Linked DNA regions of Homo sapiens: all the other regions are reported to be linked to region 5. Evidence: microRNA targets listed by miRTarBase, many of them from high-throughput screens and not tested one by one. Region 5 holds a microRNA gene; each other region holds the end of a gene's coding sequence.
The links. The annotated mature microRNA hsa-miR-4651 reads CGGGGUGGGUGAGGUCGGGC and lies in region 5 at 1,941-1,960, opposite strand. An mRNA with a match to its seed (bases 2 to 7 or 8) in the 3' UTR can be bound and repressed. Matches are read on the target gene's strand: a 7mer-m8 pairs with bases 2 to 8, a 7mer-A1 pairs with bases 2 to 7 and ends in A, and an 8mer does both.

Region 1: the mRNA of TESPA1 is a reported target of hsa-miR-4651. The part of its 3' UTR that is shown has no 7-base or 8-base seed match.
Region 2: the mRNA of SPATA6 is a reported target of hsa-miR-4651. Seed matches in the 3' UTR shown: 8mer at 2,015-2,022 and 7mer-m8 at 2,915-2,921.
Region 3: the mRNA of CYP2B6 is a reported target of hsa-miR-4651. Seed matches in the 3' UTR shown: 7mer-m8 at 4,810-4,816.
Region 4: miRTarBase lists RHOB as a target of hsa-miR-4651. Seed matches in the 3' UTR shown: 7mer-A1 at 644-650 and 7mer-m8 at 648-654.
Region 6: miRTarBase lists HOXB6 as a target of hsa-miR-4651. Seed matches in the 3' UTR shown: 7mer-m8 at 1,096-1,102.

Annotation. Positions count from the first base shown.
Region 1 is chr12:54,957,920-54,961,919 of GRCh38, reverse strand. TESPA1 (thymocyte expressed, positive selection associated 1) reads left to right here. Exons shown (of 11, transcript NM_001136030.3): 10 at 653-752. The coding sequence ends at 751. Among named protein-coding and RNA genes, the nearest start is that of TESPA1, 25 kb to the left of the region's middle. RefSeq lists an enhancer at 2,550-2,599.
Region 2 is chr1:48,294,274-48,299,751 of GRCh38, reverse strand. It overlaps SPATA6 (spermatogenesis associated 6), which reads left to right. Exons shown (of 13, transcript NM_019073.4): 13 at 859-4,379. The coding sequence ends at 1,039. Among named protein-coding and RNA genes, the nearest start is that of SLC5A9, 74 kb to the right of the region's middle.
Region 3 is chr19:41,016,591-41,021,942 of GRCh38, reverse strand. CYP2B6 (cytochrome P450 family 2 subfamily B member 6) reads right to left here. Exons shown (of 9, transcript NM_000767.5): 9 at 3,545-5,297. The coding sequence ends at 5,116. Among named protein-coding and RNA genes, the nearest start is that of CYP2B6, 28 kb to the right of the region's middle.
Region 4 is chr2:20,447,735-20,452,981 of GRCh38, forward strand. RHOB (ras homolog family member B) reads left to right here. Exons shown (of 1, transcript NM_004040.4): 1 at 1-1,706. The coding sequence ends at 322. Among named protein-coding and RNA genes, the nearest start is that of RHOB, 3.3 kb to the left of the region's middle. RefSeq lists an enhancer at 2,467-3,028.
Region 5 is chr7:75,911,688-75,917,165 of GRCh38, reverse strand. It overlaps MIR4651 (microRNA 4651), which reads right to left and starts at 1,969; the gene lies at 1,897-1,969. It overlaps POR (cytochrome p450 oxidoreductase), which reads right to left and starts at 2,011. Exons shown (of 16, transcript NM_001395413.1): 1 at 1,987-2,011. It overlaps LOC124901680 (a long non-coding RNA gene), which reads right to left and starts at 4,625. Exons shown (of 2, transcript XR_007060393.1): 1 at 4,427-4,625; 2 at 2,672-2,870. RefSeq lists a silencer at 1,804-2,293 and an enhancer at 2,554-2,603.
Region 6 is chr17:48,593,072-48,597,071 of GRCh38, reverse strand. It overlaps HOXB6 (homeobox B6), which reads left to right. Exons shown (of 4, transcript NM_018952.5): 4 at 400-1,321. The coding sequence ends at 659. It overlaps HOXB5 (homeobox B5), which reads left to right and starts at 3,293. Exons shown (of 2, transcript NM_002147.4): 1 at 3,293-3,951. The coding sequence starts at 3,390. The region is part of intron 1 of HOXB-AS3 (HOXB cluster antisense RNA 3); the gene reads right to left. RefSeq lists enhancers at 409-578, 636-1,307, 2,350-2,855, 3,085-3,154, 2,856-3,363 and a silencer at 3,620-3,669.

The DNA of each region.
Region 1 (4,000 bases), not on the chromosome of region 5:
CTATACCATAAGGGACCTTGCATGTCCATGTTTGGTTACCCGAGCCTGCACATCCAAATGCCACAAGCTCCCACCTACACAAAGAGCCATTGGTCATCATTTGGGCCTAGGCTGCATACACTACTGGAGAGGTCAGCCCTTGAGAGAACAGTCATCAGGCAAAACCAGCGCACATTCCTGCAACCGGCTTGGGGCCATTTGACCAGCAAACTTTGTGATTCTGGGTAACCAAAGAATGTTCTAGAAGGAATAGTGCAGGACTAGGTGGGCACATTCTCTAAGTCCACCAACTCTTCGTGTTCTCTAAGTCCACCAACTCTTCTGACCCTCTAAGACTCAGAACTCCTCTCGCCTGGGTCTATGGAAGATACTTCCATGAAGTGTTGGGATCTCTTTAAAAAGCTTTTAAATCCTTGCCACAAAAAGAAGCCGTGATTATTTGAAATATCATTTGCATGTATGTCACCTCTCCTTGAATGTAGAGCTACACCTCCGCTCCTGCCTTCCTCATTACTGTGTCCCTGACACCACAGAAGAGGCTGTCTCTCAAGTACACTCAGCCTCCTTCCCCTACAGCTACCTGCCACCTGCACCTTTCCTTACCCCCTTTCCCCCTTGGCTCTGGCTGAGTTCTGTGGGATCTTGGTTACAGGTGCAAAGCAACAGTGAGGAGGAGCAGAGTCAGAGTCGCTGGCCCAGCAGACCCAGGCACCCCCACCACCACCAGACTTTTGCTGGCAAAGACTCGTGAAGTAAGTGGGCCTCTCTCAGGCAGTTCTCAAACCTGGCTGCACATTGTAATCAAATGAGGAAGGTTTTTTTTTTTTAAACCCATAATAAAGGGTCCCACATTCTGTAATTCTGATTTAATTGGAAACCAATGACTAATTATTTTAAGCTTCCAGGTAATTCTATTATGGCTGGAAAATACCTCTCTAGATCAATGATGCCCAGGCTTTGGCAGGCATCACAATCACCTGGAGGGCTTGTTAAAATACAAATGACCAGATCCCAGCTCCCAGAGTGTCTGATTGAATTGGCCTGGATAGAACCAAAGAATTTGCATTTCTAAGAAGTTCTCAGGTGATGCTATTGCTGCTGGTCTGGTAATCACAGTCTGAGAACTGCTGTTCCAGGAGACATTGTGTAGAACTTTAATATTCAAACTGTAGTGTACAGATACAAGGAGCATCAGCATCCCCTGGGATTTTGTTAGAAATGTGGACTGTCAGCCCCCACCCCAGACCTAATGAATCACAGTTTTACCAAGATCTTTAGGTTAGATAATTGATTGCATATTGAAGTTTGAAACTCATTGTAGTAGAAGTTTTGTAACAGGTGAGGACCAGCCATGGAAATCAATATCCCAACACCTGCTTTCAGCTATGTTCTAATCAGCCCACATCATTGAACTCAGAGCAGACTCCTCAATGTACCTCACAGCTATGCTCATTTAGGGTCTGAGCTCCCTTCTGCAACTGTGGTCTGATGAAGGTAGCTCTCCCTCCCCTCCTCAAAGCAGGAAATGAATTTCACATTGTTATTTATTGCAGCTAAAATTTCTTTCCTCCAGATATGAGTTTTTCAGTATTAATTTTTTCAGAGATATCTCTTATACCTTTAAATAGTTTGGCCAGTAATTTATTATTTAAACTAATGAAAATTAATCTTTCTGTAGTTTTAACCACCTATCTGCTACAACCACAAAGAAAATGGCATAAGGGATAATGGTATTTTCCCCAGATAGTATAAATTAAAATCTTTATTGAATTAAGTAAATAAATCTTGCTTAGAGATTCCTTTATTTTGGATATCTTGGTACCATTTTCTACATTTTCTAGTCTAATTGTTTTCTTAGTTAATACTCCAAAATTTCAGTGGTACTTGCTCAGACACACAAAGATATTTACAATTCTAACTGTTTTAATTCTAATTCTCTGTGGTTTTAGGAATCTAATCACTCTTGTTTCTCTCTTACCTACTACCTACATCTCAGGGTATATGAATCATATGTATGTATTTAGTCACAAAAGAGGTAAATAGCAGAAGGCATCAATATGTCATATGCACTTCAAGAAGTTTCAGATGGTTTCAGTTGCTGGTCTGGCATGTTAGGAGCTAGAAGCGGCCACTCCACCCAAACAACAAGTAAAAACCTGAACAGACTGAAAAATTAGTAACCGTTCTAGACCCATCAGAGAAGTGGGTCACAGGGCAAACCACTTCTCCTCAAATTAGAGAAATAGGCAAATGCAAAGATTTATGACTTGTTAGAGCAAAAACCCCAAAGCATAAACTCCCCCAGGAATCAGAACCACGGTAGAGAACCCGGACAATAACCGAGGAATTACTGGATGCTCAGCATGGACCAGTCTGAGAAATAAAAACTCTAGGGAGACCCAGTCATTGGGAGGCCCCTTGTTTCTGGGAGTCTTACTTCTAGGAGCTCAACCATGTTCTCACAGGAAATACTGGAGAAAAATCCCCTAGTGTTTCCCGCAGGGGGCGGGAGAAAGGAACCATTTTGAAATGCAGCAGAGCATTCTATTCCTCTTAACAAAGTCTTCCCTCGGGAGAAACTAGATACCAAAAACCTAACCGGATGAGGTTTTATCAGAGACTAACCGACCTGAAGGAAGGGAAACACCCAACTCCTGCCTACTCTAGCCATCCCGTCCCATTAAAGGGGACAGAGAGGATGAGAAGCACAGGTGAGAGTCACAATCCAGAGGCACAGTCTCACTGGAAGACTGAGACCTAACCATAAGACCATGGAACGCTTCCCTTCTCCCTAAACCTTACCACCACATTACTAAAAGCCTATTTACATCAATTTCTTTTACTCAGTACATCGCGTCCAGTTGTAAAAAAAAGACATAGTAAAAGGCAAAAACAGGTTGAAGAAACAGAGAAAACGTTAAAACCAGTCTCAGATATGACAGGGATGTTAGGATTATCAAACTGGAAATTTAAAACAACTAAAATGATAAGGGCTCTAATGGATAAAGTAGTCTGTGCGCAAGAACAAATGAACAGAGAGATGGAAATCCTTAGAGTAAAAAAAATGCTAGAGATAAAAAATGGTGTCACAGAAATGAGGAATGCCTTTGATGGGCTTATTGGTGGACTGGACATGGCTGAGGAAAGAATCTCTGAGCTTGAGACTATAGCTATAAAAACCACCAAAACTGAAAAGCTAAGAGAAGACTGAAAAAAATATAAGAGAATATCCATGAAATGTGGGACAGTTACAAAAGGTGTAACATATGCATAATGGAAATTCCAGAAGGAGAAGAAAGAGAGAAAGAAATAAAAGAAATATCTGAAACAATAATAATTGAGAATTCCCCCAAATGAATGTCAGATACCAAACCACAGATCCAGAGAGCTCAGAGAACACCGAAAAGAATAAACACACGCACAAAAAAACGCAAAAATCTACACCTAAGCTTATAATTTTTAAACTACAGAAAATCACAAGTAAAGGGAAAAATCATAAAAGAAGCCAGAAGGAAAAAACACCTTACCTATAAAAAAACAAAGATAAGAATTACATGCAACTTCTCCTCAGAAAATGTGTAGTATATACTCCACAAGTAGGTTCTTGCCAAGAATTGAATTTACTCTAAAATGCAACACTTTGCTTAAGTGTTGTTTGTCCAGCAGATGTCAGCCTTGCACAAGAAAAAAAATGCCAAGATGTTCCACAAAGCAGGCTGTGTGCAGGATTTATATGGTTATACATTCCTGGGCAATCTATGCAATGCAATGCCCAGAACACAAGTTCCTCTCACAAACCTGTCCCAACTTTGTCTAAAGGTCAGTATTTTAAAATATCAGAATTGAATTGCTAGGGAGAAAGTATTGCTAGGAGTCATACATTTCAAGTACCTAACTAGATTCCATTTTCTGCCAGTGATGGGGCTTCATTACAGCAGGAGAGGCAATGGTTTAAAATGCTGTATTTTATTGATTCTAAGGCACACATTTTTCCACATTT
Region 2 (5,478 bases), not on the chromosome of region 5:
GTAAAATGTATTCATAAATAGATATAAAGTACCTGGTTTAGTGTCTCATATTTAATAACGTCTGTGTTTAAATTTTAAAACAATCCTGTAAAACTAAAGTTAAGGAAGTTGAGACTCTGGATAGTTAAATAAATTGCCCAAGGTCTCACAGCTTATAAAGGACTGAGCTGGAATTCAGTTTCAGGTATGCCTGACTTTTAGCAACTATGCATTCTTTTTTTTTTTTTTTTTTTTTCCGAGACGGAGTTTTGCTCTTGTTGTCCAGGCTGGGGTGCAATGGCGTGATCTCAGCTCACTGCAACCTCTGCCTCCCGGTTTCAAGTGATTCTTCTTCCTCAGCCTCCCGAGTAGCTGGGATTATAGGCAAGCGCCACCATCCTCAGCTAATTTTGTATTTTTTAGTAGATATGGGGTTTCTCCATGTTGGTCTGGCTAGTCTCGAACTCCCGACCTCAGGTGATTTGCTCGTCTCAGCCTCCCAAAGTGCTGGGATTATAGGCGTGAGCCACTGTGCCTTGGGCTGTGCATTCTTATACTGGCCATACCAGGCCAGTATAAGAACTGCTTTTATTATGTTCTGCTTTTATTATGCTGTACCTGTGTCTGTTCTCTGAATTCCTTTTTCACTCTAACACAAAATTTTCATTTTACTGTTTTATAACAGTTTTACACAGATACTTCTGCCTCCCCTTTTAAAATGTCCCTCTTTGAAAGCACAGGCCTTACTCTGTTTTATTTTTCACAGCCCCAGCAGAGAATTAAATAGCCATAGAGTACTCAATAAATATTTGATTTACATAGTACTATCTCTAATTTTGTTTCATTATTGTTTTGAACCTTTTATATCCCTTTTTATAGCTCATGTCAGCAGCCACGTGGCACTTTCCATTTGGATGACGGTGAATACTGGTCCAACAGGGCAGCCTCTTATAAGGGAAAATCCCACCGACCCATCTTTGAGAACAGCATGGACAAGATGTACAGGAACTTATACAAAAAGGCCTGTAGTTCTGCTTCACATACACAGGAAAGCTTCTGAGACCATCCATGATAAACCTCATTAGTGTCCGTGTCAATTTCTCAATGAAAATGTTTGATGTGATCAATATCTGTATTCCTTTTTTTAAAAAAAATGGGATTATAACTAAGTACAATAGTTATACTTGAATAAGTTCATTACTTCAAATGGTAAATTATCATAGGCAAGCCTTTTAAAATAATTATTACAGAAGAGTCTGCTGTGTTACAAACATTAGAGCTCTGTCACACAATCACAACTTCCAATATGTGACAAGGATATTCTGTTACATGTACACCTCATATTCCATCTGCAAATCCAAGAATAGTTCCTTTCTAGAAATGTTTTTTTTGCCTTACTCACCTTGCAATTTTCTTCTCATCTACTTAACTGGTTATCTTGCCTGTGTAAGATTTAATTAATATTGACTACCTTTTCTTGGTGATGAACAAAATGATATCCTATACAGAAATGAATTTCCTAAGGGTTTAAACCCTGTTTTCACTAACATTTTCTACTTTTTCCTTTTTCAGAACAGGCTATTCTATTTCTTAGCTCATAGGCTTTCTTTTTAAAGACTATATGATCATTCACTCCTTTTTCTCTGGAAGAACTGTGTAAGTTGCTTAAAATGCATAGCAGTTAGCTAGAAATATCAGTGCCATGGATGATCAAAAATTTGAATAACTAATTTTTAAAGATAAAATTCTTTGCATGATTTTTTTTCTAGGGCCATACCTTTTGGTGCAACCAGAATCAGAAAATGGCCTCTGTTAGTAAGCTTATAGAAACCTAAAAATAATAATGGAATTATATTGTAATTTGACTGCTTGGAATTTGTGTAAGTACCATATGGCCCAAGGCACTATTATAGTATCCTCACTTTAAAAAAAAAAACACTTGGAACCACAATGTGAGTAAAATATTATAGCAGAACGCTTTGTGGTAGACACTGAAAATGTTGTTGATTGATGGATAGAATTAACTTCTCCTCCCCCACCCCAGCACACACCTGTGAAGCCAATGATACTATAAAGACATAAAGAAATCAGCTACTTTATATTTAATAGAGAGTGAGGGGAGGGAAAGGAGAGTGTAGGAATAAGTGAACTGGGCTTATAGTCTTGAAGAGTTGCCTAAAAGATAATATTTTCTCATTGACTCTGTTTTTGATTAATTTTACAGTTATGATTGAAAAAGAACAAAATGAACTTCCTTTAAAATGAAATTAAAATGTGAAACTTGCTGACTTATTTTTGTAGTAGAACTTGTTAACATCATGTTAAGGGTGCTTTAGTATCACAGTCTGTGATATATCAGAAAGGGCATTAGAGCTATCTCTATGAGCCAGGAGTCCTAGGCTTTAGTATCCCATGTCTGCCGTTTTCTAGCTGAGTCTATTTAATTCTCAGATCCTTTGTTTCCTCAGCTATCAAATGATAAGAATGTAGTAGACCCCAAACTATGTTCTGTGGACCAAGATCACTGTTTTAGGAGATAATCGTAGGAATGTAGGTATAAGTATGTAATTGGCCATCTAAGTTTAGGAAAATCTGTTTGCTACACACATACACACACACACACACACACACACACACACACACACACCTCTTAGAGAGTCATATGTAGGATTATAGAGGTAAAAAGAGATGATATTAATGCTGGAATAGCGCCTGTAAACTGGGGCTGTCTACAGCAAATTAGGATATATGGTCACTGTGCTCATTGTGAACAGTAGCTTGTTCGAGGCTTTAAGAAAATTCTGGTATAAATCTGTCTTACTCTGCATCTAGTAGACAGCCTGGCATGTAATTGATGTTCCTTAAATATTTATCGAATTAACCCAGAATTTTCTAAACTAAATTTAGCATGTACCACTATTTGTTATTCTTGCCACCACCCCCCATTCCCCTAGCTCCTCACACTACCTGCCAATGTCATCCTAAGGTACATGTGGATACCTAGGTTGTAGAAATGCTGGACTACACAATTGCTGAGTTACTCTCTGGCTGTAGATTATATGATGAGGTATTTTACAATCAGCTTTTGAAGGTCAACATTGAATAATGCTCTTTTAAAAAAATTATATCCTCAGTGTTTTTCCATGGAAAAATAAGTGAAAATTCTTTTAAGAGTTGCTGTTTGGTGAAAAGAACAAACATGACTTTCAAAGAAAATGTTTTACTATCACCAAAATCTCCCAAGTGAATAAGTACCACAGAAATTACTTATTGCACCTGTATCTGCCATTGGCTGTGAAAAAGGCTGCAAAAAGTAGGGCTGAAAGGGAAACTTTAGAAACTAATACTCTGAAAGATGTTTTCCTATGGATTAAATTTAGTGTCTTTCTGAAAGTTGGGGGCAAATTCCCAGATACTAATAGCATCTTTGCTAAGTGTCTGATTATCTTCTATCCCCTAGGAGGAAAGAGTGGTCCATGTTGCTGTAACTACTACTATGAGTGCTTATGCTGTATTGTTTTTAAAGAGTAAAACCTTTAAGTACTAATAGTTGTCTTTTCTCATTCACAGGAGCAGAAAGGTGCAGTTGTTTATTCTCTTAGCCTTTTTTTTTTCCTGTATTTCCCACAAATCTAGAAATAATTATTGGAGTTAATATGAAAGATAAATAGGCTTTTCTTTTTACTTTTTAATTTTTTTCTTTAAATCATAAAAAACCTTGGGATTTAGAAAAATGTCAAAATCGACAAATAAAGATGAATCATTGGAATGAGACTCTTCCTTGGTTCTACTAGCTAGTTATATAACCTTATTTAAGTCATTTATGCTTCTTGGAGCTCAGTTTTCTCACCAACAAGGTGATAAAAGGGTTAATTTAGAATGATCCTTTGACATTTCATAATTGTACAATTAATATGTACGATCAGGAAGTCCTAGGCAGGCAGAGTTGTTTTCTGATTTCCAAAGATTAAGCCCCTGATGAAAAATCTGGAACAAATAGAGAATTTTCATTATTGTGTTCATTTGCTAATAATAGCTTTATTGAGATATAATTCACTCTGAAAAAGTATACAATTAAGTGGTTTTTACTATATTCACAGAGTTGTGCAACAATAACCACTCACTAATTACAGAATATTTTATAACTCCCAAAAGAAATCCTGTAACCATTAGTGATCACTTCCCACTACCTCCTCCCCACAACTCCTGGAAACCACTATATGCTTTTTGTCTCCATGCCTATTCTGGACATTTCATATAAATGGAACCATACAACATGTGACCTATTGTATGTGGCTTCTTTCACTTAGCAAAATATTTTGAGAGTTCATGCATGTTGTAACACGTATGAATACTTCATTCCTTTTTATTACTAAATAATAATCCATCATATGAATATACCACATTTTGTTTATCCATTCAATTGATAGATATTTTGGTTGTTTCCACTTTTTAGGTATTCTGAAATGCTGCTCTGAACACTTGTATACAAGTTTTTTGTGTGGACATATGATTTTATTTCCCTTGAGTATACATCTAGGAGTTGACTTGCTGGGTCCTATGGAAACTATGTTCAACATTTTGAAGAACTACCAAATTGTTTTTCAAAGTGAACGTGCCATTTTACAAAGATCAACTGTGTTGATCTTTATCTTAGGATCTTAGGCAAGTTATACATTCAAGCCTCATCAATTTATTCATCACATATATATTAAGAACTATGTTAGAAATAGAGGGTATATAAAAATGTATCTTTAAAAGTATGAAAACAAAAAGTGTATTTAAACATTTGCAGTCGTTTGGTAACTTCCATGGTATGAAAATGCAAGAATGGGGATAAAGGCCTTCTAGCTTGATGAAACAGAACATGCAGAGGCATGAAAATGGGAGGGAGCATGATTGATCAGGAAACTCCTCCAAGTGCTTTAGCTAGAAGTGGTGTGCAAGGTTGCAAATGCTATGGTAGAATATGACTAATGCAGTAAGAGAACTACAAAGAAGTCTAGAGCAGCATTAGAAGAGGTGACCATTGAGCTGAATATTGAAAGATTGAAAGGACTTTTGAGAATAGGAAAACAAGGTGGAATAAACTAAATATTGATCAGATTTTACAAGAGTGGAGATGGAGTTTAAAATATCCAGAGTCAGTTAAGAATAAAGATCTAGAACTTGGGAGAACTCAAGAATACAAAACACATTTTGAAGTCAGATAAAAATAATGAAGTCAGATAAAAACAAATGAAAGCTCTGCTTTTTGTTTTTCTCCTAATTTATATGTGACCATAATAGGCACCCTGAGAGTGCTGGACCTCAAGTAATTTAATGTTTTGCTAATTAAGGAGGCTCTGGTGGTAGTGAGATAGTTTGAGGGCAGCCCTTTTAAAAATAAGATAGACAGCCGGATGCAGTGGCTCACGCCTGTAATCCCAGCACTTTGGGTGGCCGAGGTGGACGGATCATCTGAGGTCAGGTATTTGAGACCAGCCTGGCCAACATGGT
Region 3 (5,352 bases), not on the chromosome of region 5:
GCCAGCCACCATGTAAGACGCAACTTTTGCCTTTCAGCATGATTGTGAGGCCTCCGCAGCCATGTGGAACTGTGAGTTTATTAAACTTTTTTTCTTTATAAATTACCCAGTCTACGGTATGTCTTTATCAGCAGCATGAAAATGGACTAATACAATGGACAATAGAGCAAGACTCTGCCTCTATAAATAAATAAAGACAGACGGATAGATAGATATATGATAGATAGATAGATGATAGATAGATAGATAGATAGATAGATAGATAGATAGATAGATAGACAGGAAATAAGAACCCTGCCTTCCTAGAGCTGTCATTTTAGCAGGAGAAGGCATTATCAGAGCCAATGCCTTGTTGCTCCTGGAAGGTTCCAAGCTTGCTTTCTTACCTCTGGGTCTTTGACCTTGCTGTTCCCTCAGCTGAGAAGGCTTCTCCCCACACCTTCCCATGGCCAATTCTCAGAAGTCTTCTCAAAGGAGCCCTCTCTGACCACTCAATCTGAAGTAATCCCCATGGAACCCTTGTACACTGTTGGTGGTAATGTAAATTAATAGAGCCACTTTGAGGAACAACATGGAGTTTCCCTAAGAAAAAGAAAAAAAAAAGTAGAATAGGCCAGGTGCGGTGGCTCATGCCTGTAATCCCAGCACTTTGGGAGGCTGAGGTGGGCGAGTCATCTGAGGTCAGGAGTTCAAGACCAGCCTGGCCAACGTGGTGAAACTCCATCTCTACTAAAATTACAAAAATCATCCAAGCGTGTCGGCAGGTGCCTGTAGTCCCAGCTACTCAGGATGCTGAGGCAGGAGAATCGCTTGAACCCAGGAGGTGGAGGCTGCAGTGAGCTGAGATCATACCACTGCACTCCAGCCTGGGTGACAGAGTAAGACTCCATCTCAAAAAAAATGAATAAAGAAATAAAATAAACAAACAAAAAGAAAGAAAACCACTAAAAATAGAGCTACCACACAATCCAGCAATCCCACCGCTAAATCTATATCAAAAAAAAGGAAATCCGTATACTGAAGAGATATCTGCACTCCAGTGTATTTTGCAGCTCTGTTTGCAAGAGCCAAGTTATGGAATCAACCTAAGTGTTCATATGGTGCCCATACAGAAGGGAGTACTATTCAACCATTAAAAAAGAATGATATCCTGCTATTTGCAGCAACATGGATGGAACTGCAGGACATTATGTTAGGTGAAATAAGCCAGGCACGGAAAGGCAAACTTTGCACATTCTCACTCATTCGTGGGAGCTAAAAATTATGACAATTTAACTCATGGAGATAGAGTAGAATGATGGTTACCAGAGACTGGGAAGGGTGGAGGTGAGGGACTGGGGATGGCTAATGGGTACAAAAATAGAGTTCGATACAATGAATAAGATCTAGTTTTTGATAGCACAATAAGGTGATGGCCGTCAGCAATAATTCATTGTACTTTTGTTTGTTTGCTTGTTTATTTTTTTGAGATGGAGTCTCACTCTGTCACCCAAGCGGGACTGCAGTGGCACAATCTTGGCTTACTGCAAACTCCACCTACCAGGCTCAAGCAATTCTCCCGCTTCAGCCTCCAGAGTAGCTGGGATTACAGATGCATGCCACCATGCCTGGCTAATTTTTTTTTGTATTTTTGTAGAGACAGGGTTTCACCATGTTGCCCAGGGTGGTTTCGAACTCCTCAGCTCAGGCAATCTGTCTGCCTCAGCCTCCCAAAATACTGGGATTATAGGCATGAACCACTGTGCCCAGCCTGTGGTACATTTTAGCATAACAGAGGGAATATAACTCTAATGTAACACAAAGAAATGATGAGTGCTTGAGGTGATGGTTACCCCATTTACCATGATGTTATTATTATATGTGACTATACACTTTATGCCTGTCTACATTGTATGCCTGTGATTATACATTGTATGTCTGTATCGAAATATCTCACTTACCACATAAATATATACACCTGCTATGTAGCCACAAAGATTTTTAAAAATAAAAATAATTGCATAGACTCCTCAAACCCCAATCTCCAGTACTTTTCTTGTCTTGCTCCACCCCAGGACCACATCTCAAAGCCTCAAGTCTATCAGAATTTCACCCTCCAGTCTGTCTCCTCTCCATTTCACCTTATAAAATTCCAGAAGCTTCTGTAGTTAATATATAAGCCAGAAAGGAATTCCCAAGCTTGTCTGTGGAATCCCACCCAAAGTACGACCCCAACTGCCTTGCTGCCTGTGAGCTGTTTCCCGTCTACCCACCTCCTCCTTTTCCATCCCTTCCACACTCTCCCATCTCACCACCTGGACAGACTTCAGAAAGCCCTGTGGTTTATTTGCAAAATGCTCCCCCAGGAAGGGCAGAGGCCAGGGCCTAGGAGAGAGGCAGCCCTGGGAGGTGGGATGGCCCCAGAACCAGAGTAGCAAGAGGCCACTGGGGACAATGAGGAGTGAGAAGGCTGAGGGCACCGTGGTCCTCATTCTTCCCGCCTTCCATTCTGCTGTCGCTCTTAAAAGACATGTTGCTCTGTTTGTTATTTCTGTGGTTGGTGAGGGAATGTGTGCCATGCATTTGTACTGGCAGAGTCTCTGTTAACTCTTCAGAGGCTACAAGGAGCCCAAAGATGGCAGATGCTGCAGACGCCAAAAGGTTAGCATCTCAGGGTGGAGTCCCAGGGCCAGCTTCCCACTGGCCACAGGCTGGCTGATGTATCCTTGTGATAATGATATTAAACTTGCAGCACCTCCCTCAGGGAAGGGTGGTGGTCCTGCTGGTGGAATGTTTGGAGGCTGGATTTATTTATTTATTTATTTATGAAACGGAGTCTCACTTTGTCACCCAGGCTGGAGTGCAGTGGCGGGAACTTGGCTCACTGCAACCTCTCCCTCCTGCATTCAAGCGATCACCCTGTCTCAGCCTCCCGAGTAGATGGGACTACAGATGCACACCACCATGCCCGGGTAATTGTTGTATCTTTTTTAGTTGAAACACGGTTTTTGTATGTTGGTCAGGCTGGTCTCGAACCCCTGACTTGAAGTGATCCACCCGCGTCGGCCTCCCAAAGTGCTGGGATTATAGGCATGAGCCACCGCGTCCAGCCTGGAGGCTGGATTTAGAGTGGTTCCACTGCAAGAATAGCGCTAAGCTTTATCAAAAGGTGGCATTGCAGCACGGGGTATCGAGAGTAACTGGTAGGCAGAATGGGGGCATCCTGGGCCCTTTGGGGATGAGAATTTATTCTGGACCTCACAAGAAAGTGGGATATGGAGGAGATATAGTCTGATGGAGGAGGCCTAGCTCCATTTTGGGTGGGCTGTGGGGGTAGGGGGTGGCTGATTTAGCCACTCATTCATTCATTCCTCACCAAATATTTTGAACACCTGTCATATGCCACACGCTGTGTTGAGAGTACAGGGATGAGCAAGACAATGGTTTGGCCCTTCACAGAGTTGGCATTGAGGTGAGAGAGGCATTCTCACCAACATTCCTTCCAGAAAAATCCCTAGAGACCCGACAATAAAAGAATCACACACAAAATGGCACAGATCACCTCTTGACGTGGGGAGGTCAGGCTTTAGAGATGTTTATTTAATTCTCAGCAGATTTGAAGGAACATATCAGGGAATCCAAAGCACCAGTGCAGAATCCCACAGCTCAGGGAACCTGGGCCAAGGGGGCTTTTTGATAGACGGAAGCAGTAGGAAGAGGCAGCTGGGAATGAGGACTGGGGAAGACTACAGCAGTGTGTGACTGTGGTCTACAACAGGCATGAACCTCAAAAATAGCATTCAACATGAAAGCAACCAGACACAAAAGATCACATATTATGCCTGTAATATCAGCACTTTGGAACACTGAGGTGGGTGGATCACCTGAGGCCAGGAGCTCACCACCAGCCTGGCCAACATGTCCCTACTAAAACTACAAGAAAATTAGCCAGGCATGGTAGTACATGCCTGTAATCCCAGCTACTTGGGAGCTGAGACTGGAGAATCTCTTGATCTTGGAAGGCAGAGGTTGCAGTGAACAAAAATTGCACCATAGCACTCCAGCCTGGGAGACAGAGCAAGGCTTAGTTTCAAAAAAAAAAAAAAAATCAAATATTGTATGATTCTGTTTATGGGAAATATTCAGAATTGGTAAGTCCATAGTGACAAAAACCAGATTGACAGGGGCCGAGATGAAAAAGAGAATGGGGTATGGGGAGTGACAGCTTGATAGGTATGGGTTTTGTTGGGGGAGAGATAATGAAAACATTTGGAGCTAGGAGAATCACCTGACATCAGGAGTTCAAGACCACCTAAAAATACAAAATTTAGCCAGGCGTGGTGGGGGACGCCTGTGATACCAGCTCCTCCAGAGGCTGAGGCAGGAGAATCACTTGAACCCAGGATGTGGAGGTTGCAGTGGACAGAGATGGCACCACTGAACTCGAACCTGGGTGACAGAGTGAGACTCCATCTCAGAAAAAAAGAAAATGTTTGGAACTAGATGGTGGTGGTTGTACAGCTTTGTGAATGAACCACACGCCACTAAATTTTACACTTTAAAACAGCTAATTTTATGTTATGTGAATTTCAGCTTAATTTTTAAAATTATATATATACATGGCTGGGCACGGTGACTCACGCCTGTAATCCCAGCACTTTGGGAGGCTAAGGTGGGTGAATCACTTGAGTTCAGGAGTTCGAGACCAGCCTGGCCTACACAGTGAAACCCCATCTCTACTAAAAATACAAAAATTAGCCAAGCGTGGTAGTGCATGCCTGTAATCCCAGCTACTAGGGAGGCTGAGGCAGGAGAGTTGCTTGATCCCCGGGGGTGGAGGTTGCAGTGAGCCGAGATCACGCCACTGCACTCCAGCCTGGGCAACAGTGTGAGACTCTGTCTCAAAAAACAAGAACATATATATATATATGATTTTGTATATTATAATTTTCGATAATCTCACTCCTGCACTCACTTGCAATGTGACCTCAGACAACTGGTGCCATGGAGGGGAAGGAAGCTGGCTTGTAGCAGGTCTCTCAGAGGCAGGAAGTTGCGGGGAGTCAGAGCCATTGTCTACAGAGGCGGGGACACTGAATGACCCTGGAATCCTTTGACCCCCTTCCCTCAGCCCCTTCAGCGGGGCAGGAAGCGGATCTGGTATGTTGGGGGTATTTTGCCCACACCACACTCCTGGGGTGTCAGATCGATGTCTTCTGGGGCCACGGGGCTGGCCATGGAGAAGTTCTGGAGGATGGTGGTGAAGAAGAGGAACAATTCCGCACGGGCGATGCCTTCACCAAGACAAATCCGCTTCCCTGTGGACACAGAAGGTCACCAGTGTGGGCACAGGGCAGGTGCATACACTTCGCT
Region 4 (5,247 bases), not on the chromosome of region 5:
CTCGCTGGAGAACATCCCCGAGAAGTGGGTCCCCGAGGTGAAGCACTTCTGTCCCAATGTGCCCATCATCCTGGTGGCCAACAAAAAAGACCTGCGCAGCGACGAGCATGTCCGCACAGAGCTGGCCCGCATGAAGCAGGAACCCGTGCGCACGGATGACGGCCGCGCCATGGCCGTGCGCATCCAAGCCTACGACTACCTCGAGTGCTCTGCCAAGACCAAGGAAGGCGTGCGCGAGGTCTTCGAGACGGCCACGCGCGCCGCGCTGCAGAAGCGCTACGGCTCCCAGAACGGCTGCATCAACTGCTGCAAGGTGCTATGAGGGCCGCGCCCGTCGCGCCTGCCCCTGCCGGCACGGCTCCCCCTCCTGGACCAGTCCCCCGCGAGCCCGGAGAAGGGGAGACCCGTGTCCCACAAGGACCCCACCGGCCTGCCTGGCATCTGTCTGCTGACGCCTCTGGCTTGCGCCAGGACTTGGCGTGGGCACCGGGCGCCCCCATCCCAGTGTCTGTGTGCGTCCAGCTGTGTTGCACAGGCCTGGGCTCCCCACTGAGTGCCAAGGGTCCCCTGAGCATGCTTTTCTGAAGAGCCGGGCCTCAGAGTGTGTGGCTGTGTGTCTGTTCGACTCCCCTCGCCCCATTTTCACCCCACCCCCGCCTCTGATCCCCGGGGGCGAGATTGGCGCGGGAGTGTGGCCGCGCCCCATCAGATGTTCGCCCTTCACCAGCGGGAGCTTGATATCCCTTGTCTGTAACATAGACCCCGGGTACTGCGGGAGGGGAGGGCTGCTGGGGAGGATGGGGGGATGTTATATAAATATAGATATAATTTTATTTTCGGAGCTAAGATGGTGTTATTTAAGGGTGGTGATGGGTGAGCGCTCTGGCCCAGGCTGGGCCAGACTCCCGCCCAAGCATGAACAGGACTTGACCATCTTTCCAACCCCTGGGGAAGACATTTGCAACTGACTTGGGGAGGACACAGCTTCAGCACAGCCTCTCCTGCGGGCCAGCCCGCTGCGAACCCTCCACCAGCTACCGGAGGGAGGAGGGAGGATGCGCTGTGGGGTTGTTTTTGCCATAAGCGAACTTTGTGCCTGTCCTAGAAGTGAAAATTGTTCAGTCCAAGAAACTGATGTTATTTGATTTATTTAAAGGCTAAAATTTGTTTTTTTATTCTTTGCACAATTGTTTCATTGTTTGACACTTAATGCACTCGTCATTTGCATACGACAGTAGCATTCTGACCACACTTGTACGCTGTAACCTCATCTACTTCTGATGTTTTTAAAAAATGACTTTTAACAAGGAGAGGGAAAAGAAACCCACTAAATTTTGCTTTGTTTCCTTGAAGAATGTGGCAACACTGTTTTGTGATTTTATTTGTGCAGGTCATGCACACAGTTTTGATAAAGGGCAGTAACAAGTATTGGGGCCTATTTTTTTTTTTTCCACAAGGCATTCTCTAAAGCTATGTGAAATTTTCTCTGCACCTCTGTACAGAGAATACACCTGCCCCTGTATATCCTTTTTTCCCCTCCCCTCCCTCCCAGTGGTACTTCTACTAAATTGTTGTCTTGTTTTTTATTTTTTAAATAAACTGACAAATGACAAAATGGTGAGCTTATGATGTTTACATAAAAGTTCTATAAGCTGTGTATACAGTTTTTTATGTAAAATATTAAAAGACTATGATGATGACATTTATAAAATGGCTCTTGTGGTTTAATAGTGTGTAAAAATACCCTTGTGAATTTGGAACAAGGGAGATATTCTCCTAGGCGAGATCCTTTCTTGCCAACTCCGTTTCCCTTATAGCAAATGTAGTAAATGAGGATGAAGTCCCTTTGAGAGCATGTGGGGGTTGGGTGACCAAGGGAGACCAGGTTGTTCCTGTCACATTCCTAGAGGAAGATGAGTGGATACCCCGACACCCAGTGCAAAAACTTTTGACCTATTATGTACTCAGTTCAATTGGGTGAGACCGAAGATCTTGATTTCATTCATCTGTGTGTCTTAAAAACACTTGTGTCTTTAAGTCTATTATGGGGCTTTGCTTATTCTTTGAGTCTTGGAAAGTTATCATTTGTGCATTTTAAATTTAGAAAACCTTTATTAATCGTTGGTGTGGGGTCACGCTATCAGGAAGCCTGTTTACTGGGTTCCCTTCAGGCCATCAAGGGGTTTACACAATATCCCAGGAAGTTGTAGGTTGTTATCTTTGGGCCTGGAGCTTCCAGAAGTGGGGGAGTTCAGATAAAGAGGTGATTTTTTAAAATTATCAAGCTTTGATCCCAATATGTCCTTTATTAAGTAACCTAGAATGATTTATTCTAAGTTCAGAGAAGGGCCATATTGTGGAAAGAACATTGGATGTTTTGGTGGTTCTTAAAGTTGGAGCTGCCACTTTTTGAGAGTCATGATAAACTCTAATCGTAGACACTTAGCTTTGCTGTAATGGTTCTTAGAACCAGACGGGCTGATTTATAGGTGGAGACCACATTAAAATTCTGCTGCAGGCATGATGGTTCAAACCTGCCAGCTCTCGCAGCTTCCAGGGAAGGTAGCTGAGAGTGTCAACTGCCTGAGAAGTGTGGTTTTCATTTTTTTTGAATCAGCATTTTCTGGGTTTCTAGCACTTAGTTGCCACCTTCTCCTTCCCCCTCCTCCCCATTCCCAGGACAAAGGTGGAGGTCTCCTTTGAAGTTGTTTGCTTCAAAGCTTGAGGCTTCTGTTTCCTGGTCTTACCCCAGACTCCAAGAGCTTTTGTTGAGTGAATAAAACCTGGTTGGTGGTGACCTTTCACCCACTTAAATGCTGGCAGTAACTGGACCTCCTGCTCAGCTGGGTGGGTGCATTGACTAACAGAAGGGGATTGTCTGGGCTCCTCCAGGAGCAGAGGGGAGAGGGGTCTATCCAGGCTGCCTGCTTTGAGCAACTGCCTAACTCCTTCCTCAGTCCCTCGGCCCCACTCACCTCCAGACTGCAGTCTCCTTTTTCATTTTAAAGACAAAACTTCCCATCGACAAACAGCATGTTTATTTGCAGCTTTTACAGCTAGCAAATCCTTTGGTACCAGGGAGCGCAGGACCCAGTGGGGGAAGAGTTCAGGCTTGGGCTGAATGCCCAGGACTCAGCTTTGCAACCAGCCAAGAGCCTGGAGGCCCAACTCCCTGAAAGGGCCTTTTCTGGGTTGCTCTGATCTGCCTGGTACCCATAACTGTCTGTGTTTTATATTATGGGCAGACAAACACTCAGATGACGCATGGCAGCCCAAGTTATGCTTGTTTGAAAATGCGTGGCATTTCATAATCCTGCCGGAACACACTCTTCTTGCTGCATTAGGATCCAACTGGAAAACATAAAGATGAATTGCTGTAGGCTGGAAAATCAATTAGGAAAAAGAGGTAAAACATCTGGTGTTACTCTTAGAATATGAAAATTCATTTTGCACATTTAAAATAAATGTGTTGAGTTGATTTAATTGCCTGTTGAACTGTTTCGTGGAAAATACTGGGAAGTTGCATTGATCCTGGGCATTTTGCAGTAAGGGGCATTGTCTTGAGTTCTCCTTTAATCTTAATCTTTAATCAATCTGGATTGTATTTCTAAGGTCTTTTTCACGTGAGTTTCAGTAGACTTGGAACTTCAGTTTTCAAAGTCAAGTGTGTATTAGAATTACACGGAGGGCTGGTTAAAACACAGATGGCTGGGCCTAACCCCACAGTTTCTGATCCAGTAGGTCTGGGCTAGGGCTTAAGAATTTGAATTTGTAGCAAGGTTCTAAGTGATGACAAGCTGCTGGTTGGGACCACACTTTGAGAACTACTGGCTTCGAATAAGGGAGAGTCCTTGTCAGTGTACAGAGTAGGGAGGTGGTTTCCTATGAAAATAGATTAAATTCCACAGACTTATGGTGCTATGCCCTGCAGTCTTGACTTCCTTACACAACGGAGTACATAGCTTCCAGAGAGCTTTCCTTCTAAGATAAGCCACACATAACTCCTATCTTCTCTTCCCTACATTCTTCTGCAAAAATGGGTTTAATGCCCTTCTAGAGATTCATTTCTTTCTTTCCTTTTTAAGAGACAGGGTCTTGCTCTGTCGCCCAGGCTGGAGTGCAGTGGTGCCATCATAGCTCACTGAAGCCTCAACCTCCTGGGCTCAAGCAATCCTCCCACCTCAGTCTCCTGAGTAGGTGGGACTACAGGTGTGCCCAGCTAACTTTTAAATTTTTTTTTGTAGAGACAAAGTCTTGCTATTTTGCCCAGGATGGTCTCGAACTCCAGGGCTCAAGCAGTCCTGTTATATCCTCCTCCGAAAGTGTTGGGATTACAGGTATGAGCCACCAGGCCCCAACCTATTTCTGCCATTCCTGAATTCAGAATGCAACAGCACTCTAATTTAATCAGCGTTGGCACCTACTTTGTGAACTCTGATGAGGTGGGAATACAAAAGCAATAAAACACAGTCCTCCCCCTCCAGGAGCTCATTCACAGCCTGGTGGCCCCCTGGCAGTTGCAAGAAGGCATCCACCAAGACCACAATTATAGCATGATGTAATGGAGGCATTAGGCAAGGGCACGACAGGAGCCTAGGGCACAGGTACCTATTTTTGCCCGGGAAGATGGGGAAGGTGTCATGGAGGAGGAATCATTTGAGCTAAATCTTAAGCAGGAGTGGGTGATGTGTAGGTGGAAAAAATCTTGGGGGTGGGGTGGGGAGGGAGATAATTGGGCCATTGGCACATCGAGGATACATACAGCTTCTTTATGTTACTGTAGGGCCTCGCCTCTGGGAATAAAGCTGTCTTGGGTGAGAACTACTTTCTACTTTTAGTCCCTCTAGCGTATATTTCTTCAGTCAAGAAGAGTGGTATTACCTAGCCAAGTAAAACACAGCCTCTCCTCTTCGCTCCCTGTTCACAAAACAAGGAGCATCTATCTGGCAGGCCAGGAGAGGGGGTTGGTGATGAAGATTTCATTGTTTCCTCTGTGCCTTCCAGGGATGTGATTCAGACACAGGACTAGCTTTGTGATCCCTGTGCTCCGGAGAAACCTCCACCCTGGCCTCAAGGAGGCTGTGAAACCAAAAGGGACCTTGGGTGCCAGCTTGCTGGGTCCTTACTTACTTGGTCCATCTTCTGGCTGGAAGGAGCACCTGGGCTCTCAGAGTGCCCCCCGACTCTCAGCAGCTCCTTTTCTGGCCCAAGAGGTAAGAGTCTGGAGGACCCCAGTTCAGTTTCTTC
Region 5 (5,478 bases):
AATCCTGGAGGTTGAGGCTGCAGTGAGCTATGATTGCGCCACTGCACTCCAGCCTGCACGACAGAGTGAGACCTGTCTCACAAAAAAAAAAAAGTTACTTAAAAGCTAAATTATTTTTAACTTGAAATGTTCCATGGACTTCACGAGTAAATGTTCTGGATTTGCCAAGCAGTTTTGATTTCAATTGGCCTGTCTCCTAATCATACACAGACTTACCTAACACAGATTCTGATTTTCAAGGGGTTAAGGGTGGATCAACCCAGAGTTAACCAACAGCAGGTCCTAAAATTCAGGTATGTCTGGCAGCAAACATCCTCTGTGGCATTTATAAACTCCTACTACCCAGGACGATCCACACCTGATTTACATTGGCTGCGGTCAATGCTGCTGTTTTCAGGAATATCCCTGGGTTGTTTCATTTCAAATCTACCTATTATTTCTTCAAGTGCTAGACCTGAAGAATTTTGGAAAATTAAGATCACTCCTAAGTTTCCACACCACCACGCAACTGGCAGCTAGCATCCCATTCTCTGAAATGCGGATGTTGTACAAATACTTTTTATAATAAGCTATCTGCTCAGCGAAAGTTTCCAACATTAGATGGCATGAAGGTCATAAGTAGCTCAAAAACCACTCTCTTAAAAGGAAAATAAGAACTCCTAAAACAGCCCTCCTCCCAAAAAAAAGGAAGTGGACCTTTCTGGGTTCCCTGGTTTACTAACTGGGCCTTTGGAGCTGTTCTCCTGACCAAGCCAACCCCATAACCACTCAAAAGGGATTTCCGTAGGTAGAACTTGCAAATGGTTAATGAATCAATGCCTTCTCCATAAAGCAAGACCCAAGGAATTACAGCAGTGAACAACGGTGGGGATACTGGATCCCCCAGAGGGTTCCATAAACGTTCTGCTTACAAGGAGGATTAAAGTTCTCGATGCCACTCTCTGGGACCCTGTCTTGATCCTCAGAATCTCAACCCTGTGGGGAGAGCAGGGTGGCTGTCTTACTACCAGACCCACTGATCAGAAAACGGAGGCTCCAGGAGGTATCTTGCTTGCCAAGAATCAAACCAGGGCCACCCAGTCCAGTCCTGTCTCCTTTTGTGCTGGCATCATTCTCCAGCTTGGCCAAGCTCAGAGGCAAGGCAAGGCAAGGCTGCAGCTTTAAGGGTTTAAGAGAGGAGACAGCCACTTTCATTGAAACAGCCCCAAACTCCTTATTAGTGGTCACCAGTTTACACAAGGGTAACTCGTTTTGAAAAACAATACGCAGAAAGTCGAAGTCAATCAAGCTCACTGAAACCTCTACTCTCCTCCCCCTGGCGCCCAAGAGACCTTGAACTCTTACCCAATTGCTCCCCCGATCTAAGGGTGTCCCGGCTCCCCCAGGAGATCCGGGTACCTGTGTTGTGGGGGCCGCCGAGACACCTGACTGCGAGGGGCACTGCCCTCAGGGATGCAGGCCGGGCTGGGGGGCTCCCGTGATCCATCGACTCAGCCCACCTGATGCTGCAGGGTTAGATTCGGGTCCCATGAGCATGCATCGAGCGCCTCTCACGTTAGGTACCCCCAGAATTCGCTGCCTCCCGAGGCCCATTCATCGTACAGATGGGGAAACTGAGGCTCGGAGAGTTAAAGTGGCTTAGCCCGTGGGGGGCGGCGGCGCGGGGACTGGACCCCGAGCCCTGAGATACCGAGCCCTAACCCTCAGCCGAGGGCCTGCCGGGCTCTCTCGGCCCAAGCTGTGGAAAAGTCGACCCTCAGGCCGCCGCGGGAGATCAGCTCTAGGGGAAGGGCGACGCGGAGGAGGGCCGGGGTGGGAGCCATGCCTTCCGCCCGAGCGTCGGGCCAGACGCGCAGTGCCCAGGCCCGAGGGCCCACCCCGACGCAGAGAGCCAGGCGGCCGCGGTGAACTGAGGCGCCCGGCAAACCCCGAGTCTTGGGGCCCGACCTCACCCACCCCGCCGTCGCCGCGAAAGATAGCACTCACCGCTGGCAGCCCGGCTGCTCTCTGCGGGCACCTGGGCAGGGCTCAGGCCCACACCACTGAGGCGCTACCACCGCCTTCGCCGGCCGCGGGGGTGGGGGCGTGGCCATTGGGCCGCCGCCCCGCCCACTCGAGCCGCGCGTGCATTCCCGGAGCCCCGCGCTTCCCCCTGCAAATTTGCGCTCTTGGTACGGCCCGGCCCGGCCACGCCCCCTCGCGGCTCGGCTGGGTCGCCCGGCAGAGAAATGAAAGTGCGTGGTTCCGGGGGTGGCGGAGTCGCCTGGAGACGGCGGCTGCGGCTTCTACAGCTCGGACCCTGCAGGTCACCGGGCCGGCTGCCCACCTTCCCGGGGATCACTGCAGAACTGTGGCTGTGCGCCCGCCGGTCTAGCCTCCTCCTTCGGGCCGCCGCTTGCTTGTGATCGCCACATTGTCTCCTCCACGGCCCTGTTTCCTCACCTGAAATTGGCGAGGCTTCAGGCCCAAGTCGTCTCCCTGGGTTCCCTCCATCCAGCCTGACGGCGGAGGGCGCGCGTTTGTTTTTAGAGACAGGGTCTCGTTCTGTCGCCCAGGCTGGATTGCAGTGGTGCAGTCACAGCTCACTGCAGCCTTCAACTCCTGTGCTCAGGCGATTCTCCCACTTCAGCCTCCCAGTAGCTGGGACTACAGGCGCGCCACCACACCTAGCTAATTTTATTTTATTTTATTTGCAGAGATGCGGTCTCGCTATGATGCCCAGGTTGGTCTCGAACTGGTCTCAAGTGATCCTCCCTCCTCGGCCTCTCAAAGCGCTGCGATTACAGGCGTGAGGTCCCACACGCTGCCTAGAGCTCGCTTTTGAAGGCCGGCCTGTTGGGGGTGGGAAGTGACCAAGCAGGAGGCAAGCCCTGGATGGAAGAGGAGTGGGGGGATACAGAGAGCTTCTGGGGTTTGAAAAGTCTGGCAGCCTTGGTTGGGGAGTGAAGCCCACCTCTGCCTCCTGCTATGGTTTCTACTTTACAGGGTCATGAAGATTAAGTGGTATAACCTTTGTTCCTAAAGGATTTAGAGCACGGCATTACTAAGTGTTCTCATCGCCATTGTTATTATTACTACTACTACTATTATTACTAGCTGTGCTGTGAATTCCTTTTGCAACACTGTGCAACTCACTTCTCTCAGAGCCCCTTCTCCATCTTTTAAAAATAGCCCAGGCACGGTGGCTCACGCCTGTAATCCCAGAACTTTGGTAGGCTGAGGTGGGCGGATCACCTGAGGTCAGGAGTTCGAGACCAGCCTGACCAACATGGCAAAACCCCGTCTCTACTAAAAATACAAAAATTAGCTGGGCATGGTGGCGGGTGCCTGTAATCCCACCTACTGGGGAGACTGAGGCAGGAGACCCACTTGAACCCCGGAGGCAGAGGTTGCAGTGAGCCCAGTTCACACCACTGCACTCCAGTGTGGCCGACAGAGTGACACTCCGTCTCACAAAAAAAAAAAAGTTAATTTATAAAATAATACATAAATATAACATTTATATATTATATAAATGTTATATTTGTTATATTTATATATTATATAAATAATATATATTATATAATAACATATATGTTACTTATTTTTTGAAACAGGGTCTCCCTTTGTCGCTGAGGCTGGGATGCAGCCTCGACCTCCTGGGCTCAGGTGATCCTCCTGCCTCAGCCTCCCTAGTAGCTGGAATTACAGGCATGCGCCACCACAACTGGCTAATTTTTGTATTTTTATTTTTCATTTTAAAGAAAGTTGATTGAAATTTTTTTGTAGAGATGGTGTTTTGCCATGTTTCCCAGGCTGGTCTCAAACTCCAGACCTCAAGCAGTCCTCCCACCTTGGCCTCCCAAAGTGCTGAGATTACAGGTGTGAGCACTGCACCTAGCCTAATTTTTAAATTTTTTGTAGAGACAGAGTCTCGCTATGTTGCCCAACCTGGTCTTGAACTCCTGGCCTCAAGGGATCCCTTGCCTCGGCCTCCCAAAGTGCAGGAATTACAGATGTGAGCCACCATTCCCATCCACTCTTCATCTTTAAAATATTGTGAAAATAGCAAAATCCTATATAAAGAGATTATTACCATGGCCCAGGTGCCAGGTTTCCTATGTCCAGGAACCAGTCCCTCCAACAGGTTGGATGAATGCAGTAGCCCTCAGGGTGGGGCACAATACCTGTCCAAAGAAGGGACTGAACTCCACACTCACCCAGAGAGAGAGCTGTGGAGAAATTCACCCAGATATCTGATACTCTGTGCCATCTTTTCAACACCCTGTTGGACATCTCCCCAGGATGTCCCAGTGAGGCTTCAAATTTGGACTTTGACTCCATGCCCCCTGCTTTTTTTGAAACCAGAACTCCTAAAACACTGAGTCTTCTCTGTCTGCTAATAATATAGCATCACTAAGGAAACATCAGGAAACAGGCATTTTACCTCTTTGGCCTTTTCCCATTGAACCAATAACTGGGTCCTATGGATTCTATCTCCAGAACCTCCTCTTGTCATCTTTTCTGCTGTCCCTGTTCCAGTTGGGGCCACGTGGGTTCACCGTTCACCTGGATGATCTCAGCAGCTTCCTGACTTTTTTGGGGGGGATGGAGTCTCACTGTGTCACCCAGGCTGCAGTGCAGGGGCACCATCTCAGCTCACTGCAACCTCTGCCTCCTGAGTTCAAGCGATTCTCCTGCCTCAGCTGCCTGAGTAGCTGGGATTACAGACTTGTGCCACCACACCCGGCTAATTTTTGTATTTCTAGTAGAGATGGGGTTTCACCATATTGGCCAGGCTGCTCTCGAACTCCTGACCTCAGGTGATCCATCTGCCTTGGCCTCCCAAAGTGCTGGGATTACAGGTGTGAGCCACCGCACCTAGCCGGCTTCCTGACTGTTTATGTCACTTCTCGTTTCTGCTACACCCACTGGCAAGGAAGCCTCTTTTTTTTTTTTTTTTTTTTTTTTTTTTTTTTGAGACAGGGTCTCACTCTGACACCCAGGCTGAAGTGTAGTGGTGAGATCTAGGCTCACTGCAACCTCCACCTCCTGGGTTCAAGCGATTCTCCTGCCTCAGCCTCCTGAGTAGCTGGGATCACAGGTGTGCACCACCACACCTGGCTAATTTTTGTATTTTTAGTAGAGACGGGGTTTTGCCATGTTGGCCAAGCTGGTCTCGAACTCCTGACCTCAGGTGATCCATCCTCCTCAGACTCCCAAAGTGCTGGGATTACAGGCGTGAGCCACCACACCGAGCTGAAAGCTTCTCTTCTTCAGTTACTGTCCTCCTCATTGTCCTACCTTCCTCTCCTTCCCTCCCCACCCCCACCCCGAAAAAACACTCTCGCTGGCCAGCTGGGGGGAAAAAAAGTAGGTTGCATCCACATCTCACATATTACACTAATATAAATTCCAGATAGATAAAATATTTAAATGATTTTTTAAGGGAGAAGGAAAAAAAAAGCCCCCAAAAGTCCATGGGAGAATTGGTGTTAA
Region 6 (4,000 bases), not on the chromosome of region 5:
TGTGGACTATGGATCGATCTACGTCATTACGGATTAACGGCCTGGATTTATCATTGGGTTGGGGGGATGACGGGGGGTGGGAACAAGATGGATGGAAAGGGAGGGAAAGACAAGATGCAACTAGGAAGAGACACACCTGACCAGCCCCTCCCCCCAGGCTCAGGTGGGAGTTCAAACTGCTCCTCCCCTCCCCCATCTAGAGTCTAGACAGACGGCACAGGCCTAGGAGACTAGGAGGGAATCTGGAGGGGGCGCTGGAGGAGTGCGAAACGGGGGAAGGGAGCCGGCAGAATAGAGGGCATCCCGGTACTGGCTGGAGTCTGTGTTCGAGGGTCGACTAGGGGAGGGGGTCCTGGGCCCGGTGACCGCAGGCCTCAGCATCTCCACTCTGCGTAACAGGTTCCTCCTTTGGGCCCAGCGGCCGGCGAGGCCGCCAGACATACACACGTTACCAGACGCTGGAGCTGGAGAAGGAGTTTCACTACAATCGCTACCTGACGCGGCGGCGGCGCATCGAGATCGCGCACGCCCTGTGCCTGACGGAGAGGCAGATCAAGATATGGTTCCAGAACCGACGCATGAAGTGGAAAAAGGAGAGCAAACTGCTCAGCGCGTCTCAGCTCAGTGCCGAGGAGGAGGAAGAAAAACAGGCCGAGTGAAGGTGCTGGAAAGGGAGGGAGGACGCGAGGGGAAAGGCCTGTGGGGAGCCGAGGGCGTCAGAGAGACCCGGGAAGGAAGGCTCTCGGGTGGGGGAGCCAGGAGACCTGCTCTCCGGCGCAGACAGGCGGGGCCCAGCGCTCTCCTGGACGCCCCCGCCCGCACAGCTCCCGGCGGGTGCTCTGAGGCCTCACTACTCGAGCCCACCCAGCATCCCGCGCGCCCTTCCTTCCCGAGGAACTCGCCTCAGCCTGATCAGGCTTCCTGGTGAGAACTGAGGAGCGGACTCACTTGATGTTTCCTGGAAGCAGAGCAAAATGCTCTTGTCCCTGTCGCGTCTCATTTTGTCCATGTCCCCCGTGCACGGTTCAATGGTAGATTCGCTGTCCCCTCAGCGGGGGCCTTGAAGACTCCCTGATCCCAGACCTGTCGTCTCTCCCACCCCCTCCCCAAAGCCACTGGAAGGAGCACATACTACCTAGAAGTAAGAAGAGGAGCCTCAGAAGAAAACAAAGTTCTATTTTATTAATTTTCTATGTGTTGTGTTTGTAGTCTTGTCTTAGCTCTGGACGTGAAATACTTCGATGATGATGATGATGATGATGATGATAATAATAATAATAATAACAACAACAACAACAATAATAAAGATGTGAAAACTCGACGCTCGGTCACCTCCAATCCTCCCCTGCCATTTTTTCCTCTCTCCTCAACCCCCAGCCTCTCCATCTTTCCTGAGCCAGAATTCTTCAGCAAAGGCGAGAGCCCTGGCCCGCCGAAGCGAGCCCTGTTCGACTGGGAAGTTACAGCTGAGATAAAGGCTGGAGCGATCAGTCCTGCCCAGGCCCCAGCGCTGCGTTTCCCTGGTGCTGAGGCTCACAGCCGCTTCTCCCCGTGCAGACTTGGGGGATGGAGAGGTGCTGTGTCCCTCTCATTCTCTAGCCTTTCCTCGTGTATACACAGCACTAAGGGAGCCACTGAGGCCCCTAAAGCTCTCTGGCGGAGACGGAGCCATAGTCTGGGGGCCTCTGCAGCGCTTTTCTGTCCTCACCTTCGCAGCGACCCCTGGTCTTTGGCCCGTCCACATGGCCAGGTTTTTTCGCCAGCCTTGGCCCTCCGCTCCTGGCCTGTGGCTCTGGAGACTGAAAAATGGGGCCACTGGGTATCTCTCACCCTGCAGCTGAAGGCTCCAGGTGCCCCTTCCCACCTCAAGTAGCAGATCAGCCTCAAGTAGGAGATCAGCCTCAAGTAGGGGAATGTAAAGCCACCAGCCAGGCACAGGCCGAAGGCCACAACTTTCCCTTGCTCCTTGGAGACCCCAGGGCAGGAGGCCAGGTGATGGGGCTTTTAGTGTCATCCTCTCAACCCAGAATGGCTCATTCTCTCTCTGCTTGCACCGGCACCCAGAAGGCAAGCTGCGGTCACTGTTTTCCTTTATTCCTCCGCCCTCTCGCTTCCTTTCTTATTTTTAAAGAAAATAGTCCCCTCCTAATAGGAGACCAGCTGCGGCGGTCTCTGGCCGCCCAGCGTGCTCAGCAAAGCATGCGGGTCCTTGGAACCCCTTTTCCGGGAAGGCGGCTGCCACCAGGCAAATTCTCAAACTGCCTAGCTGCGAGTGAGGGACCTGTAGTGGGGCCTCCGAATGCAATAGCCGAGGAGGAGGGGAAGGGATCCCGCTTTACAAACTCTCAGACACATGTTACTACTCAAACTAAGCAGCAGACGCGGTGGCCGCTGCAGTCTTTTCGGCAACTAGGCCGCTTAGCCCCAGCTGTGCTCGGTTTCTGGGGTCCCTGTCCTGCTCTGTCACTCCCCACGCCTGGGCTAAGGACCACCAAGGAGGTCCGGAAGGGGATTTCGAACTTCCAAGTGGCCCAGGAGAAGTGAACGCTTCTCCTTCTTTTTCAAGCCTCCCGCCCAGCCCTGCCGGCTCGGCCTGGGCGCTGTGGACCGGTAACAGCAGTTCCACCAGGATGCAGGCCGGACTAAGCTCCTGGGGAAAACCCGTTGCAATAATTGTTTTTCACACACAACTTCCAACCCTTCCCCCATTTCCGCCTCCAATTCGGAGACTTGCAAAGCCCAAGAAAGGGAAAAGCAACTCTATCTTTGATCTTCTCATCCAAAGTTAAAATAATAACGACAATGATGATGTAGGGAGAAAGAACCAAATAGAGAGGCTAACCCCACCCACAAGAAAGTGGGTAAAAAGCCCAACCCCTGCTCTAAAAGGCTCAACCCTGTGGCTGAGCCTTGGCCGGGTTTCTTTCTCTCCCGGCGACTGCAGGGAGCCTGCAGGGAGCCAGCAGGGAGGCAGCCGCCCGCCGCCATGGCGGTCTCACGCCCGCGCTCCCGTCGGTCGCCGGGAGGTGGCGCGCTCTGCTCAGAGGCCAAAGCCAACCTTCTCTCTGTTTCTCCCCCTTCTCCTTTTTTCCCCCTCTCTCGGAGGCTCGCATTGAATCGGCCCTAACGATTCTCGGATCGTCATTATTTGTAACCATAGAGCATGAATTACCTCTTGAGGTCATCAGCGAGAATTTACGACTGGTCAACAAAAGCACGTGATTCCCTAACGCCCCCCACCCCCCTTCCAACCCCCCCCCCATATTTGGCCGCATACATAGCAAAACGAAGTACAGTGCATCGCTATAATTCATTAATACATCATAAATCGTGAAGCACAGGGTTATAACGACCACGATCCACAAATCAAGCCCTCCAAAATCACCCAAATGAGCTCGTACTTTGTAAACTCCTTCTCGGGGCGTTATCCAAATGGCCCGGACTATCAGTTGCTAAATTATGGCAGTGGCAGCTCTCTGAGCGGCTCTTACAGGGATCCCGCTGCCATGCACACCGGCTCTTACGGCTACAATTACAATGGGATGGACCTCAGCGTCAACCGCTCCTCGGCCTCCTCCAGCCACTTTGGGGCGGTGGGCGAGAGCTCGCGCGCCTTCCCCGCGCCCGCCCAGGAGCCCCGCTTCAGGCAAGCGGCTTCGAGCTGCTCCCTGTCCTCGCCCGAGTCCCTGCCCTGCACCAACGGCGACAGCCACGGCGCCAAGCCCTCTGCTTCGTCCCCCTCCGACCAGGCGACCTCAGCCAGCTCCAGCGCCAATTTCACCGAAATAGACGAGGCCAGCGCGTCCTCGGAGCCTGAGGAAGCGGCAAGCCAGCTAAGCAGCCCCAGCCTAGCTCGGGCGCAGCCAGAGCCCATGGCCACCTCCACAGCCGCGCCCGAGGGGCAGACTCCGCAAATATTCCCCTGGATGAGGAAGCTTCACATCAGCCATGGTAATTCTCTCTCTCTTTTTTGTCTTCTCGGCTTTCCTTCTCTGCGTTT